Linked DNA regions of Homo sapiens: region 2 is linked to region 1. Evidence: fine-mapped expression QTL. Tissue or cell type: whole blood. Region 1 holds a variant in brackets; the other region holds the start of a gene. All regions are shown on one strand. Distances are from middle to middle.

What was found. PIP is the estimated chance that this variant, and not a neighbour inherited with it, causes the effect.
Region 2: it holds the start of PLEKHG3, and the variant in region 1 is fine-mapped to the expression of PLEKHG3 in whole blood (INTERVAL, PIP above 0.99).

Annotation. Positions count from the first base shown.
Region 1 is chr14:64,647,351-64,655,453 of GRCh38, forward strand. No RefSeq gene overlaps it. Among named protein-coding and RNA genes, the nearest start is that of PLEKHG3, 53 kb to the right of the region's middle. The variant T/TACAC (reference allele first, on the strand shown) is at 4,186.
Region 2 is chr14:64,700,734-64,708,836 of GRCh38, forward strand. PLEKHG3 (pleckstrin homology and RhoGEF domain containing G3) reads left to right here and starts at 3,691. Exons shown (of 17, transcript NM_001308147.2): 1 at 3,691-3,971. RefSeq lists enhancers at 1,970-2,471, 7,705-8,103.

The DNA of each region.
Region 1 (8,103 bases):
TCCCAAGTAGCTGGGACTACAGGCTCCTGCCAACACGCCCGGCAAATTTTTTTTGTATTTTTAGTAGAGACAGGGTTTTACTGTGTTAGCCAGGATGGTCTCGATCTCCTGACCTCGTGATCTGCTCGCCTCGGCCTCCCAAAGTGCTGGGATTACAGGTGTGAGCCACCGTGCCCGGCCAACTGCAGTGCATTTTTAAGTGTCTGGGCCACATGAGGTGAAGTGGGAAAGGCCCCATTGCCCTTTCCAAGGGAGATGGGTGGAAAGATGTAGAATGAGAAGTCAATCGAATCAGACTGAGCATTGCCCCTTCAGGATGTGGAGGAGAGTATCAATTATAGTGACTTCTAAGGCTCGTGTAATGTAAACTGGTCCAGAAAGAATAAAATGTTATTTAACCTAACAAATGTCAGAGCTTATGGTACACAAGGAGTGGGAATAAAATCATATTAACATGAGGAACATCAATAGAATGATACAGGTGAGACACATACCATCTAGAACACTACACTATTTATATAAATTACAAGTACAAACAAAAAACCTCTATCTACTTGACAAGGACCTGCAGCAAACCCCAGAGTGGGTGCCTTTGGAAGGAGGCAGGGTTGGGAGAGACGATTGATGAGGAAAGGAAAAGACCAAGCAGAAGAGGAGGTAGGCCGGGCATGGTGGCTTATGCCTGTAATCCCAGCACTTTGGGAGGCTGAGGCGAATGGATCACCTGAGGTCAGGAGTTCAAGACCAGCCTGGCCAACGTGGTGAAACCCTGGCTCTATTAAAGATACAAAAAATTAGGCGGGCATGGTGGTGCATGCCTGTAATCCCAGCACTTTGGAAGGCCAAGGCGGGCAGATCACCTGAGATCAGGAGTTTAACACTAGCCTGGCCAACACGGCAAAACCCCGTCTCTACTAAACAAAATACAAAAATTAGCTGGGCATGTTTGTGGGCACCTGTAATCTCAGTTACTCAGAAGGCTGAGGCAGGAGAATCGTTTGAACCTGGGAGGTGGAGGTTGCAGTGAGCCAAGATCCTGCCACTGCACTCCAGCCTGGGCGACAGAGTGAGACTCTGTCTCGAAAAAAAAAAAAAAAAAAAAAAAAAAAAAAAAAAAAAGAAGAGGAGGTAGCGATGACCCTTGATGGAAATTCCCTTGAACTGGAGAGAATGATTAACTCAACTCTGCACCAAACAAACAAGCCAACAAGCACTGAGACTGGTCAGTGCTTATCTTGGAATGGTTTGTCACGTTTTTGGGAAAAGCGGTGAACACATCTGTCGCTCCTCTGGCTGGTGAGAAGACTGAACTCCATAGTGATCCCCAACCATACAGTCACCTCGCACTGCAGCATCACAATGGCTCAGCACAGGGGCCTCCACTGGCAGAAGAAAGAATCCCACAAGAGACCTCCTGCTGTAGCCAAGGAGGGGCTAAGGAACCCTGGACCAGGGGATATGGAAAAGTCAGTTGCCTGGAAAGAGGAAAACTTGGAGTACAGAAGAGAAGTTAAAAGAGAAAGACAGAAAGCAGCCTACAGCCCCACCACCTTATTTTGAAGGCCCAGGATTGCAGTTCTTATGGGTTGAATTGTGTTTCTTCCACAGAGGATAGGCTGGAATCCTCACCACCAGCACTTCATGATGTGACCCTATCTGGAGACAGGGTCTTTTTGTATTGTTTGTTTTTGGAGATAGGGTTAAACAAGTTAAAATGAGATCATTAGTGTGAACTCTAATTGACTATGACTGGTGTCCTTCTAAGAAGGGGAAATTGGCCGGGTGTGGTGGCTCACACCTATAATCCCAGCACTTTGGGAGGCTGAGGTGGGCGGATCACTTGAGGTCAGGAGTTCAAGACCAGACTGACCAATATGGTCAAACTCTCTCTTTAGTAAAAATACAAAAATTAGCTGGGCATGGTGGTGGGCACCTGTAATCCCAGCTACTCAGGAGGCTGAGGCAGGAGAATCACTTGAACCCGGGAGGCAGAGGTTGCAGTGAGCCCAGATTGTGCCATTGCACTCCAGCCTGGGCGACAAGAGTGAAACTTTGTATCAAAAAAAAAAAAGGGTAGGGTGGTGGGGGAATTTGCACACAGACATGTCCACAGGAGAACACCACGTGCAGATGGGAGTGATGTTGCCACACACCAAGGAACTAGAGCCAAGGAAGAGAGGCTTGGAACAGATCCCTCCCGAGCACCTTCCGAGTGAGTGAGCATGGCCCCGCTGGGACCTTGAGTGTGGACTTCCTGTCTCTAGAACTGTGAGACAGTAAATGTCTGTTGTAAGCCACCCAGTTTGTGGTACTTTGTTATTGCAGCCCTGGGCAGCTTGTGCAGCAACTCTCTCCCCTTATGTTGCTTTTGAGGCGATGACAGCGTTGTGTAGTTGAAACTCCTGCTCCTCCCACGGCACCGGATCTTCGAAGAACCACCTGGCCATCCACAAAGGATGGCTGACATCACCTCAGCCCCCTGGGGAGGATAGCAAGGCAGGTTCACAGAGAAAACCCCGTCAGGCATCCTAAAGGGACACTGGTGAAATGTCACAGCCCCTGTGTCATCGGGGGTGGTGGCAGCACAGGACTGATAGTTTGCGGTCAGCAGAGAAGATGTCCCTGGTCAGGAAAGAGCAATTCTCTGCTCACCTCAAAGGGACAAGGGATGAGGTGGGAAGGGGGAGGCTGCCACACCTGCGTTACGTGAACTGATAACACCTGGGCTCCAGAGCGCCCCGACCTAAAATGACCACAGCTGATTGAGAAAGCTGAGGACTGGGCTGGAGATTATGCATCTGCGCATGCTTTTTTAGTTCATTCTGTGGGAGCAACTTTTGGAGAATTGGAACAGATCGGGGGCGAATCAGGGGAAGGCAACTCTGAGGGGAACGTTCAGGGGAATTTAGAAGAAGGATGATAATGTAGGTGCAGAAGTCATTGCAGCCCGCCCCTTGAACTCGTCTCAGGAAGGTGTGCACTGGACGAGTCAAACAAGGTGCTGCACTTGAGCCTGAGTCTGGGTGCAGCAAGCTCCGCAGAGGCAGCGACTGTATCCTTGAATGGCTGGGATTGCTGGGGCCACTGCTGCCTAAGCAGGTCTGGAAATGGGGGTACAGCAAAAAGCTGTTTTATTGGGGTGTGTGTGTGTTTTGAGACAGGATCTTGCTCTGTTGCCCAGGCTGGAGTGCAGTGCCATGATCATAGCTCACTGCAGCCTTGAACTCCTGGGCTCAGGTGATCCTCCTGCCTCAGCCTCCCAAGTAGCTGGGACTACAGTTGCACCACCACACCCAGCTAATTTTTTTATTTTTATTTTTATTTTTGTAGAGATAGGGGTCTCATTATGTTGCCCAGTCTGGTCTCCAACTCCTGGCCTCTGGTCTCCAACTCCTGGCCTCAAGCAATCCTCCCACCTTGGCCTCCGAAGTGTTGGAATTACAGGCATGAGCCACTGCTCCTAGCCTGAAAGCTGTTGTTTTTATCCACCAGCTTCTCCCCCTCCCTTGCTACCTACCCACATTTGAGGGTTAGTGCAGGCCTCCTTCCCTTGGGGAAGGTGATCCTGATGAGGCTGCCAATCACAGTTCCCTTTCTTCCCCCTCACTTCAGCCCAAGAGGCAGGCATGAGACCCAAGCCTAGCCAATCAGAGCTCTTTATTGGGAGTTACGTCTTCTAAAGCAAGAAGTCCTCTCCCTCCTTAGGATGGCCAAACTGACATGATATGAGCCTAGAGCTGCCTGTAGCCATGTTGAGCCTAGCCCAGTCACAAATTCTGGGTCACTAAAGGTTAGTGAGAATCCTGATGACAACATATAAATATTTTTATTCTGTCCCTGCCCAACCTGTGGACACATGTCTGAGACCTAAGGAGAGAGATGGCTGTGAGTAAAAAGTGAGATCTCAGTAAAATCTCTACAGACCTCCAGGGCAAGGGCAGTGCATTGGAGAGGAGAGAAGCATCTTGCTACCACTTCAACATAGAGCAGCTCCAGCTTTGGTCCAGTGAGTTCTGCAGGGTGAATAGCTGGAAAGTGGGCCATGGCCCATGGGAGACTTTGGTGCTTGGCAGGGGCACGAGTTCCAGTGGCAACACCATCTCCTGGCAGGAGATGGTGGTATCTTGAAAACCATAGGAAGTACTGGGTGAGAGAGCAAAACAGCACTCAGGGAGAACAGTCTTG[T/TACAC]ACACACACACACACACACACACATACACGTGAGACTGGTCCCTCTTCTCATGATTCACAAACATACTTCTTATTTTTCTATGGGGGTGGGATGTGTGGGATGGTTGATTAACAGAAGATTGCAGGTATAGGTCTGGCTTCAGCAGATAAGGCAAGAGCCAGTGAAATCTGAGTTTTGGGGTTTTGTATGAGACAGGGTCTCACTCTGTCACCCAGGCTGGAGTGCAGTGGTACACTCACTGCTCACTGCAGTCTTGACCTCTTGGGCTCAAGTCAGTCATCCTCCTGCCTCAGCCTCCTGAGTAGCTGGGATTACAAGTGTGTGCCACCACACCCAGTTAATTTTTAATTTTTTTTGTAGATCTGGGGTTTTGCTCTGTTGCCCAGGCTGATCTTGAACTCCTGTGTTCAAGCAATCTTCCTGCCTCAGCCTCCCAAAGTGCTGAGATTAAGGGCATGAGACATCGTGCCCAGCCATGGAATCTGAGTGTTATTCTTGCTGTGTCCCCTATTGTTCCCATAGGCTGAGGTGGCCTGGGAAACTCAGGTTATATTTGGGTAACCTCAGTAAAGTTGGCCAACTAATGGCCAGTGTTTTGCTTATCTACTGCTGTGTAACAAATTACTCCAAAACATGGAGATTTAAGTAACAGTGAATATTTTTTATCTCTCACAGGTTGGGGATTTGGAAATGACTTAGCTGAGTGGTTCTGACTCAGGGGTCTCATGAAGCCATAGCACAATGTTGGTCAGGGCTGTAGGATCCACTTCTAAGTAGCCTCACTCACATCGCTGGCAAATTATGCTTGCTCAGGGAGTGGGGGTGGGAGCTCAGTTCTTCCCCAAGTGGACTTCTCCATGGGAAGGCTTGAGTATCCTCACAACATGGCAGCTGACTTACCAGAGAGCAAGTGATCCAACTGAGCAAGATGGAAGCCACAGTGAGGGTTATAGCATTGGAAGTTCAACTCTTTCTTTTCTGCAATATCCTATTATTACATAATTCATCCCAACTCAGTGTGGGAGGGGAAGACACAAGAGCATGAACATCAGGAGGCAAGGCTCACTGAGGGCTTTCTCAGAAGCCGGCTGCTACAGCATGGCATCATATTCAAAAGCAGCACCAGTTTGACATCCAAAAGCACTGAAAAGCCATTGAAGTCTCTACCGAAGAAGTATGGGAAGAAGGAAAGACATTGCAGAATGCCCAGTAGAAGTTCAAAAGTTCCTCTTCACTCTTCAATTTTCCCAGTTTTCTCATCACAGCAATTGCTTCCCCAAATCTCTTCTTTCAAACTAACTGAAATTTTCACATCTCTCCTGTTACCCCCTCGCCACCTCCGTTATATAGATCGAATCAACCTCTCCTGACTCTCCACCCTCCCACTTACCCTGAAGCCCCAAGAACCAGGTAGGCAATCACAGGCACTCCTGAGTGAGGCCTAGGAAGTGTAGGAAGAGGGAAGGCAGTGAAGAATGATATACTAACATTTTGTGTCAGTATCACATGTATATCCTAAGTGCCTAGTATGGTGCCTAGAATACAGCAGGTGCTCAATACATGTTGGTGAATTAATGGATAGAGACATTTAACAAATTCTAGATGAAAATGCTGGTATTCAGTGGTAATAATATAGCAACAAGTTTCCATATGAAACACAAAAATGCTATGCTACTATCTTCTTTTAAAATGTCCATGATAGGCTGGGCATGGTGGCTCACGCCTGTAATCCTAGGACTTTGGGAGGCCGAGGCAGGTGGATCATTTGAGGTCAGGAGTTCGAGACTAGCCTGGCCAACATGGTGAAACCCTGTCTTTACTAAAAATAAAATTAAAAAAAAATTAGCCAGGTATGGTGGCACATGCCTGTAGTCCTAGTTACTTGGGAGGCTGAGGCAGGAGAATCGCTTGAACCCGGGAGGCAGAGGTTGCAGTGAGCTGAGATTGCACCACTGCGCTCTAGCCTGGGTGACACAGCAAGACTCCCACCTCCAAAAAAATCAAGAAATAAAAGTCCATGATAAGAATATGTAATGTTGCCATACACACGTGCATGCACACACACACGCACATACACGTGTGTGTGTGCGTGTGTGTGTGTGTGTGTGTGTATAGAGAGAGAGAAAGAGAGAGAGAGAGAGAGAGGGTCTTACTCTGTTGCCCAGGCTGGAGTGCAGTGGTGCAATCATGGCTTATTGAAGCCTTGGCCTCCCAGGCTCAAGTGATCCTCCCACCTCAGCCCCCTGAGAAGCCAGGACTACAGGCGTGTGCCACCATGCTTGGCTAATTTGTAAATTTTTTGTAGGGACAGGGTCTTGCTTGTTGCCCAGGCTGGTCTCAAACACCTGGGTTCAACCAATCCTTCCACCTCGACCTCTCAAAGTGTTGGGATTACAGGCGTAAGTCACCGTGCCTGGACTGTATATTTTGTGTGTGTGTGTGTTCTCTGAACAAGCTTCTTGAAAGCAGGATCTGTGTTTTATTCACCCTTATATCCCCAAAGCCTGGCAATGCCTGACTTGGAGTAGGCAGGAATTTTGTCAGTAATGTACTGAGCATTCACAACATGTGTCAGACACTCTTCCAGGGCTGATACGCATAGTAACTCTTAATTCTCATAATCACCTAATGCGGTTGGTTATATTATCATTTCCATTTTTTAGATTACAAAATGGGGCATGAAGAGGTTGAGTAACTTGCTGGAGGTTATGAAGTAAGAGCTGAGATTTAGACCAGGGCTGTTTTGTTCTAGAGCCCACGACCATCCTCTACCACATCTGCAGTGTTTGTAGAACTGAATTAAAGATGAGTGAGTAGATCTGTCAAACTTGTGCCAGGGAAAGCCCATAAGCTTACACCAGACACAGCTAGAAAGACATTGAGGAAGTCCTGGAAACCACCAGTGTGTTTTTAGGTGACTCATGGAGGCAAGAGAGCAAGTTGCAATGTCTCCGAGGGTAGTTGGTTTAGGAAAGGATGAAATATGTCAGAAAAATCTATGTACATAAATAAAACCAAGCAGCTGTGTTCACATTAAGATCCAAACGGAAACCCAGCTGAAGTAGGAGCCGTTGGATCTGTCCCACCAACCTGTTGTGAGCATGAGCTAGGTAAATATTTGGCTGATACAAGGTCCATCACAGGTTAATAGCTCTGGTCATTACCAAGCCTGGTTATGCTGGAATTGCATGTAGTCTCAACTGGACACTCATGTTTAAGCACAATTTAAAAAATCACCAAGGGAAACCAGGAAGCAACACTTCTATTTGGGAAGTCAACTAATGGAAAGTTTTCTAAAATAAGTAACACAGCTTCAGCTTCAGCAATGGGATTTGTGACATCCCTCCCGTGTCACAGTTAATGTCTACCTTGTTTAATACCACATAATAGTACTTTTAGCCTTCAGAACCTTGAAACTGCATAACTACTGGAACAGTTTAAAAAGAATGAGAACATAATGATTTCATACAGCCCATACGTTTCCCAAATAAGTAAAGGGAAGCTGACTTACGGCAATGAGAGGCGGTGTGGTAACCCGGAGAAACTAGGCTGTCGGTGGGACACATGGGTGTGAATCAGCTCTGCTACTTACATGCTCTGTGTGTCTCCGCAGGACACTTAACCTCTTTGAGCCTTACTTTCGTCATCTGGAAATCAAGAGGGTTGCCCTAGATAATTCTAAGGACCGGCCCAGCTGAAGGTTTGTGAGTGCATGAGAAGCCTGCGGTGGGTAAGGTTATGGTGTCAGCTTCCACGTGGTCTGCGTATACAGTGAAGCCCACGTGCCCTGCTCCATTTGGAGAGGCAGCTTGGCCAAGGTGTAGAATTGGAATCATCTGCATTGGAAGCTGCCTTTTGAAAGTGCTAGCAGTGTGCCCCAAGCGCTTGTTTTCTGATGGAGCTGATCTGCCCTGCCC
Region 2 (8,103 bases), 53 kb after region 1:
TTTTTTGTAGAGGTGGGGTGGGGTCTTGTTATGTTGACTAGGCTGGTCCTGAACTCCTGGGCTCAAGTGATCCTCCCACCTTGGCTTCCCAAAGTGCTGGGAATGCAGATGTGAGCCACCACTCCTGGCCTGGTTGTTTCTACTTTTTGGTTTTTATGTATTAGCCATGAATTAATGCTGCCATGAACAGTTGTGTACAACTTTTTGTATGAACAGGTGTTTTCGTTTCTCCTAGGTATATAGCTAGCAGTGAAATTGTGGAGTCAAGTAGTAAATCTATGTTTAACCTGTTGAATTGCGCCACTGCACTCCAGTCTGAGTGACACAGTGAGGTCCTGTCTCAAAAAAACAAAACCAAGAAACACCTTTTGAGAAACTGCCAGACTGTTTTCCAAAGCAGCTGCACCACTTTACATTTCTGCCAGCAGTGCAAGAGGGTTTCAATTTCTCCACATCCTGGCCAACATTTATTATTACCTGCCTTTGATTATCGGCATCCCAGTGGGTATGAAATGGTATTTCACTATGTTTTTAATTTGCATTTTCCTGATGGCGAACACTATTGGGCATCTTTTCTCATGCTTATTGGCCATTTGTATGTTTTCTTTGGAGAAATGTATATTCGGATCCTTTGTCCATTTTTAAACTGGGTTATTTGCCTTTATTAAATTGTAGGAGTTCTTTATGTATTTCCGTAAGTTTCTTATCAGATATATGAATTGCAAAAATTTCCCCCCATTTTTTGGGTTGTCTTTTCACTTGATGTCCTTTGATGCATAAAAGTTTTAAATTTTGGTGAAGTCCAATTTATCTTTTTCTTTCCTTTGTTGCATGTGGCTCACATTTTTGAGAAATGTTGCTAAAATGCAACTTGGAACTCTGGAAGCTTTGAGATCTCAGAGCTTGGTGGGGCTTTTCAGGTCACTTTTGAGGGGGATTTTCTCCATGTTTGAGGTTTCATTCCTCCATCCCAGCCAGGCATGGCTCCTCTGAGCCAGGAGCACAGAGCCCCAGGGAACCTTTACTAGGCTTACGTTCCCTCCCTCTCCTGAGGTCTGCCACAATAGAGCAGCTGAAATGACAGTCTGGAAATGTCCTTTATTGTGAAAACTCAATGGCTTTTGTCTCTGGGATTTGAAATTTTCATGCAAGTATTGGCAGCCAAGAATTAGGAAGGAGGAGGGGAAGAGATGGGGGAGTAAACCCTGCCACTAATTTCCATAGTGAATCATCTCAATTCTCTGTTGTCTTGGTTTTCTCATCCAAACAGTTGGGAAAATACCTCCATCTCCTCATCTCAGCTGGGGTACTGTGAAAGTGAGTTCACCTGTATTTGTTAGAACACCTTGAGATCTTGGATTAAAGGCATTGCTGAGACACAAGGTATTATAATAATAATAAATGATTTAATAGCAGGGTGAGGCCATTGCAACAAGAACTGGTAGGAAGAGGCTCCGAGCTGTGGAGGGGCTGCAGCCTGGAGCCCCTGGCCCTTGACACAGGGTTTTATTATCGGAGGAGAGACTGTGCGATTTCTCACAAACTCTTTAGATTGTTTCAGTTGAATTCAGCATTGTTTTACTGAGTGCTTCCTATATGACTTCTACCACAGGGAGATTACAATCTTTTTAGGAAGTAGGTGATATAAATTAAAACAATTATTAATAGAAACAATATATTATAATCAAGTGAATTGGGCATAACAAGTGTCAGAAAGAAACTGGAAGCAGTGATGGTGAAGGGCAGAATTCCCTGTTATGACTTCCAGGTCTACCACCCACTAGCTGTGTGACTTTGCCTCAGTTTCCTTTTCTGTTACTGCAATTGTTTTTGTAAAGTACTTAGAAGAATGGCTAATACATAGTAAGCACACTCATAGTAAGCACACACCCATCTAGGCACTTGCCCGACACTGCTTTTGCTGGTTGTGTAATCTTTGCCAAGTTGCTCCTTGCCCCTAAGCCTCAGTGTTCTGTCTGCAAGATGGGGATTAGGATATCTCCTACCTCGCAAGGTGGCTGTGAGGATCCAGGGACACAGTTTGTTAAGAGTGTAGCACAGGCCCTCTGCATGGTAAGCATTCACTAAAGGACAGTTATGACTGCCACTAACACTGTAACGTGTCCTGGCTAAGGAGTGAAGGGTCGCTCACAAGTGGCTAAGTCAGGGGGCTTCTTTGGAAGCTGGAATTTGAAGCGGACCGGAAGGCATTCGTAAGATTCAGGTGATCAGATAAGAAAGCATAAACAAAAAAAGGTGAAAGCCTGAGGTTGGAAGGGGTGACCACAAGTCCTGGAAGGCCAGAAGGGGGACTTGTCACTTCTCCCCTGGCCGGCGGGGTCTAGCGGAGCCCCAACTAAGTTGATCTATTTCCGAGCCCCTCTTCTGCAATCTCTGCTCTCACCTTCACGGTCCGCGAGTCTGGGGCTCTGCAAGCCTCCAACACACCCTCCCTCCCTAAGGAATGTGGGCCCCGCTTTCTGGGCCTGCCAGACCGAGCGCCTACCGCTTCCTCCGCAGGCAGGAGCCGGGACGCTGCCTTCACCCCACCCTCCGCCAGGATCCAGTTTCAAAGTCACCTGAAAGCCATTTCCTTCCGCGCCTGCCCCGCCTCTCCCCTCCCAGTAGATCACCTGGAGCTTGCATTTGCCCAGAGCAGCATTTTGGGGCGGGCGCTTGTTTTGTTTTAAATGATACCTCTAGAAATCGTTTGCTGTACACCTGGATAACAAATATACCCCGTGGTTCTAATATCAGCGTCCTATTCCTCCTCCCAAGGAACTAGTGATAGCGCCTAACCAGTGGGCGTTGTTCCTCTTCCGGAGCCCCACTCTGGGCTTCCCTCCTCCGGGCTTGTTGTTCTTCAGGATCTTTACTGATGAATTATTATGGGTTTTTGGATTTATGCTCTTGCTCAAAATGTATTGAATGTCTCTGTCCCCCATCCTCACCCCTTGCCCCCCAGTTTCCAGGTGTGTACCTTTCCATGCATACACGGTCATATACAGAGACATAAAGACAAACGGTTCTCTTTGTTTTATAAAAACGGGTCCTCTATCATCCAGGTTTCTGTGTTTTATTTTTCCTATTTAACAGTTCCTTGTGGAGTTGCCTTCACGTTGTCTCCTTTATCTCTTTCCCGTCAGCTTCTCAGAGGTCTGCATTTACCACTGTAAAGCGTCACAGGGACCGAGTTATGGTGAGGAATTCAAGACATGCCTTTCTGACTTGGAAAAGCGGACACGGCCGGCTCTGGTAGGATTAGGATCCCCAGATCGATCCCGGCTGGTCACTCACTTGGGAAAGCCCTCAGCCCCCTTCGCAGGGCCCGGTGTTCCCTGTCCATACAAGGGGTACGTTCTGGCAGTCCATGCTGTCTCGGGAGGCGGTGATAGCAGGTCTGTGACACCAGGGTGACCCCACCACGTGCGTCTTGGTATCCTAGAGCATCTAGGCTGCCCGGGGGTGCGCGCTCATCACCCTGCGGGCGTTAATCGTTAACCGCGCCCAGGCCTCGCCGCCGCCGCAGCCTTACCCCGGCTCTGGCTCGCCGCGCCGCGAAGGTTGCCCCGGCCCCCGCAGAGCCGCCAATTGCTGGACTGCAGCCGCGAGCTGGAGTCTCCACCCACAGGAAAAATTCCTGGCCCGCCCCTCCCTCGCTCCCTCGCTCCCTCGCTCCCTCGCTCCCTCGCTCCCTCGCTCCCTCGCTCCCTCCTGCCCTCCCGCTGCAGCTCCGGCTCCGCTCGACTTCCTGCCGGGCGCTGGCAAGCCGCGCGCTGCCTGGGGTCTCCGGGGGCCGCGCTTGCAGCTGGCCGAGTCCGGGCCAGCTGAGGGGCTGGCGGTGGGCGGGAGCGGTCGGCGGCCTCAGCCCCTTCAGAGAGCGACTTTCAAACTCGCGCCCGCGTCGCGGCAGCACCTGGGCAGCCCCGCACGCCGTGCGCGTCCCGAGCCCGCGGGGCAGCTACCGCTCGGTGAGTGTCCCCTGATTCTCCTCTCTCCCCTCTTATCTCCCTGCATTAGGCTGAGCGGCGGTGCCGGCAGTCACGCTGGGGCCCCAGTCCCTTCGCGGCCCCCGTGCCAGCCCCCTGCGGGGTGAGGACCGGGGCGACCGAGGAGGGCCTGGAACTGTGTTGGCTGCTTCCCGGGCCACCCTGCCGCAGAGTGCGCGAGCGCAGGAGGGTCGTATGGGGAGACTTTTTCTGTCTTTTTTTCCCTCCACTCCGGAAACAAAAGGGGCAAATGCGCCGGGCGGCTCCAGAGAGGCTCAGTTTGAAATCCAGGAAGCCCGCGAGGCCGCGCGCGCCCGAGGGCTGGTGTTTGGCTGGAGCTGTGGGCCTGGCGGGTGGACCCTTCTGCGCGAGGACCCGAGCCTCGGCTCCTGCCAGCCCCGGAGGCGCCTGCAGCCTGTTCCGGGTTGGCGCCGCACGGTGCTCGCTGTTGGGAATCTCGGCTACCTGTCCGGCAGGGAGGAGAGTGGGGGCCAGAAGCGGGGAGCGGAAAGCCCGGCCACCAGCTGCCTCGACCTCGTCCACTCCTGAAGTCGGTTTGGTTCTTCGCACCCCTACACCCAGCCCTTTGGTTTGGAAAGCCAGTATAAGGCGTGCAAGCTTAAATTTTTAAGGCGTTAAATAGCTACTTTGACTCTTCGGGGCGCCTTTGGAACACAAAAGGAAGAACGGAGGGGAGAATGGAATGGTTGGAGGCTGGAGAGGTGTGGCTTTTGGGGAGGGTGTTGTTAGAGGCCGCGAAAGAGTTTGATCCTCGAGGTCACTCGCTAATCTGTTGGCATATGTAGGTGCCTGTCCCCTGCTCTGGGGGCCCCAGCAGGAGACCCACACTGCGTTCACCTTACGGGGAACCCTGGAGTGGGGGTTCCCAGAGTCTCCCCAGCCGTGCCTCTGCACGCAGCCCAGTCACATGGCCCTTGCTCAAGAAATAATAAGCAGGGAGGGCAATGACAGTCCGGAGCGGGGGAGGGCCTCCCCGTTGAGCACATCGGCCACCTCGCCTTCAGCAGTGTGGTTTTCCGGGCCATCCTTTGTTGGACAAGGATGGGATCCTGAGTGATTAAACCCCAGCTGTTCCCCAGGAGGAAACTAGGGAGTGAGAACCAAAAGTGTACATTTATCTCTCTGTTATACATCTCTCCCCTGTGGTTCCGGGCTGGCCCCCTGGATGCAATGGCCTCACTTCTCCTTTCGACACCTGCTGTCCTCCACTCCCTTCCTGGAAGATAGGACAACCCATTAGCTCCCTGGGTAACTTGCCCTGGGGATGGGGCAGGAAGTTGGGGGAAGAGGTACCCAGAGGCCAAGTCCTAGCTGCTGAGGGAGTGATTTGTTGAAGAGCTGCTTTGGGGGCTTTTCTACTGCCTTTTATTAGAAGTGGCATGGCAGGGGAAGTGGAAAGAGCACTGGCCTGATAGTCCAGCACGGGTTTATGCCTGAGTTTTAGACCTGGCTCTTCTGCATAGCATGGAAGATTGGTAGAGTTGAAGAGTGCGAGTCACTTGGGCTGGGGGGCCCCTTGGATTAGCCTACTTCATTTACTCGTGAAGGCAGCAGAGCCCAGAGGGGTGAGGTGATTTCAGCCTTAGACCCTATTGGCCAAGTAGAAACCAGAGGTCAGATGTCCTCATTGTCTGATCTGTGTTTTCTCCAACATGATCTGGCCAATTCACTTATCTTTTCTGACTCAGTTTCCACATAAATAAAGTGGGATTACTTGCCTGCTCTTCCTCATAGGAGCTGTGGTGAGGATCAAAGGAAGCCTCATTTGTGGAAAGTGCTCCATAAACTCCTGTTAAAACTAAAGGGCTCACAGTGGCTCGGGAGGGAGTCTCCCAAGGGTTTTACAATTTGCTGGCTATGTCCCACGTGTGTGCCACAAGGAGACGTTAGATACCAGGAGCCATTGTTGGATGTTTAAAACACCCTGGTCTTAATATCTCAGCCCCAGAGTAAACATTTGCCTTACCAAATCCGCAGCTATCCCACGGTCACTGTTTACGCTGGAAGAGGCCAAAGGCCACGGCCTGCGGGATGACCAGGGCTGGAGGGGGAAGGCTCCTCTGTTGCAGAGGTATGCCTTGCCCGTTCTCTTCTCCCAGCTCCCAGAACCTTGTGAAGGCTCCAGCTGTAAGCCAGGGGTGCTGCCACAAGCCCAGGCCGCCCTGGCCTTGGAGGGTTAAAAGTGAAGCCCTCTGGCTATTCTCTGTTGTGTTGGGGGTTGCAGGGACTCTGGGAGGGTGTTGCTTTTGCAGCTGCACTGAGGGCTGTCTTCAGCTCCTCATCTGTGCCCCCTCCCCCATCTCAGGCCGCCCCTCTGGCCCAGGCCACTGCTCTGTCCCGCCTCTCTGGCCAGCTGCAAGTCCACAGGCCTTTGTTCCGTGGCTGCAAACCCGCCCTACTCCATCCTCCCTCCTCAGCAGAAGCCCTCCAGCGGGGGCCCTGGCAGCTGGAAATCACAACTGCCAGGAGGAAGGGGCTACTGGAGCCCCCAGCGGACCTGGCAGATCCTCATTTCCTCTTGTCAAGCTCATCTGGGCCCCACAACTCACCTCTGGCCAGATTCCCACACCGTCTTTTCTCATCTCTCCTTTCTTCTGCTGAATGGACGGATCACCTTTTCCTCCCAGTACTCATGCCCCTTAGTTCTATTTTAAAGTACTCTATTCATTCATTTAATAGTTAAGGAGTTAGCACCTACTATGTATGAATGCCAGATGCAGAAGACACAGCAGTGAAGAAAATATACAATAATTATTGACCCAGTGGAGCTGACTTTAGCAGAAGTGACAATAAACAAGATTGAAATAGCAAGTGTGTTAGTGATAAACAGAAATAAAAAATATGATAGGGAAGGTAGGTGTGAATTGTCATGGAAGGGGTGAGGTGACAGTTTAGATAGGGTGGCCAGGGAGGCTTCCAGGAGGAAGGTACTTTTGAGGTGATGCCTGAAGGCGGTATTTTTCTTCATCGCTGCCTTTTCTAACTTGAAGCCCAGTTCATCCCACTGTGGCATCGAGGAACAGAGTTTGGAGTTGGACACACCTTGGTTTCAAATCCCTGGCTTGACAGCTCACTAGCCCTGTGGACTTTGATGTGGTGCTAAATTCCTTTGAGCTGTGTTTCTTACCCAACGTGGAGTTAGTCATCATACTTACCACATGCGGCATCATGGCAATGTACAGTGAGATAACGTATGTTGAATGCTTAGCAAAGACTATAGAGAGGTTCGATAAACTATTTCTCCAACCAAATTCTGCAGGGGTAGCATGAGATATTTAATGTCATTGCTAAGGACTGTAGGTGCAAAGCTTTTCATTTTAGATATTGGGCAGGAGTGGGGAATTAGAGGGAGGGGAAAATAGAAAACCTTGGCAAAAACTTTCTGGTTAGGGAGGCTTTCCTGCCCTACCCTAGATTGCAGATGGCTGAGGACGTGGGACTCCCAGGTATGTCCTATGCCCACCCCCATCCTACAGATAGGATGACAGGGGCAGCCCTGACCACCCCCCTCTTGCTCTGGAATTCCCCCTGCTTCCAGCCAGACTCAATGAATCACACCTTCTCCCTGACCTCCCGACTCTGCCTCACAGCTGGGAAGGCTGTCCACCCCTCCCCCAGCCTCCGGCAGGTAAATTATGCCTGGAGGTCGGAAGCGGAGTGGGGCGGGGACAAGGGGTAGGGAAAGTGAGGGAGGGGGCAGATGGTGGGTGGAGCTGTCCTAGGAAAGCCCAGAAGGGTGGCAGGAGGATTCTGGTGGAGGCTTCGAGATGGCTCGGAAGACTTTGAATAAGGGTTCGCCAGGGACCAGAATTTAAAGTAACAGAGTGACAGACACAATGAGAACTCAGGGTCGGCTGCCTAACTCCTAGCCGCTTCTACCCAGCTGATCTGCTGAGTCTCCGACCCTCTCTGCTGGAACCACGGGCCTACAAAGGGAGGGGTTTAATCTAAAGTACCGCTGTCAAAGTTTGTGGTGAGTGGCTTCCTGGAGACCCTGCCCTAGTTCAGGAAGTGAGAGATGGGCAGTGGAGGATGAGGCCTAGGGAAGTGGTCATGGCCAGTTCCACCCCCCCGCCCCACCCCCCAAGTATGT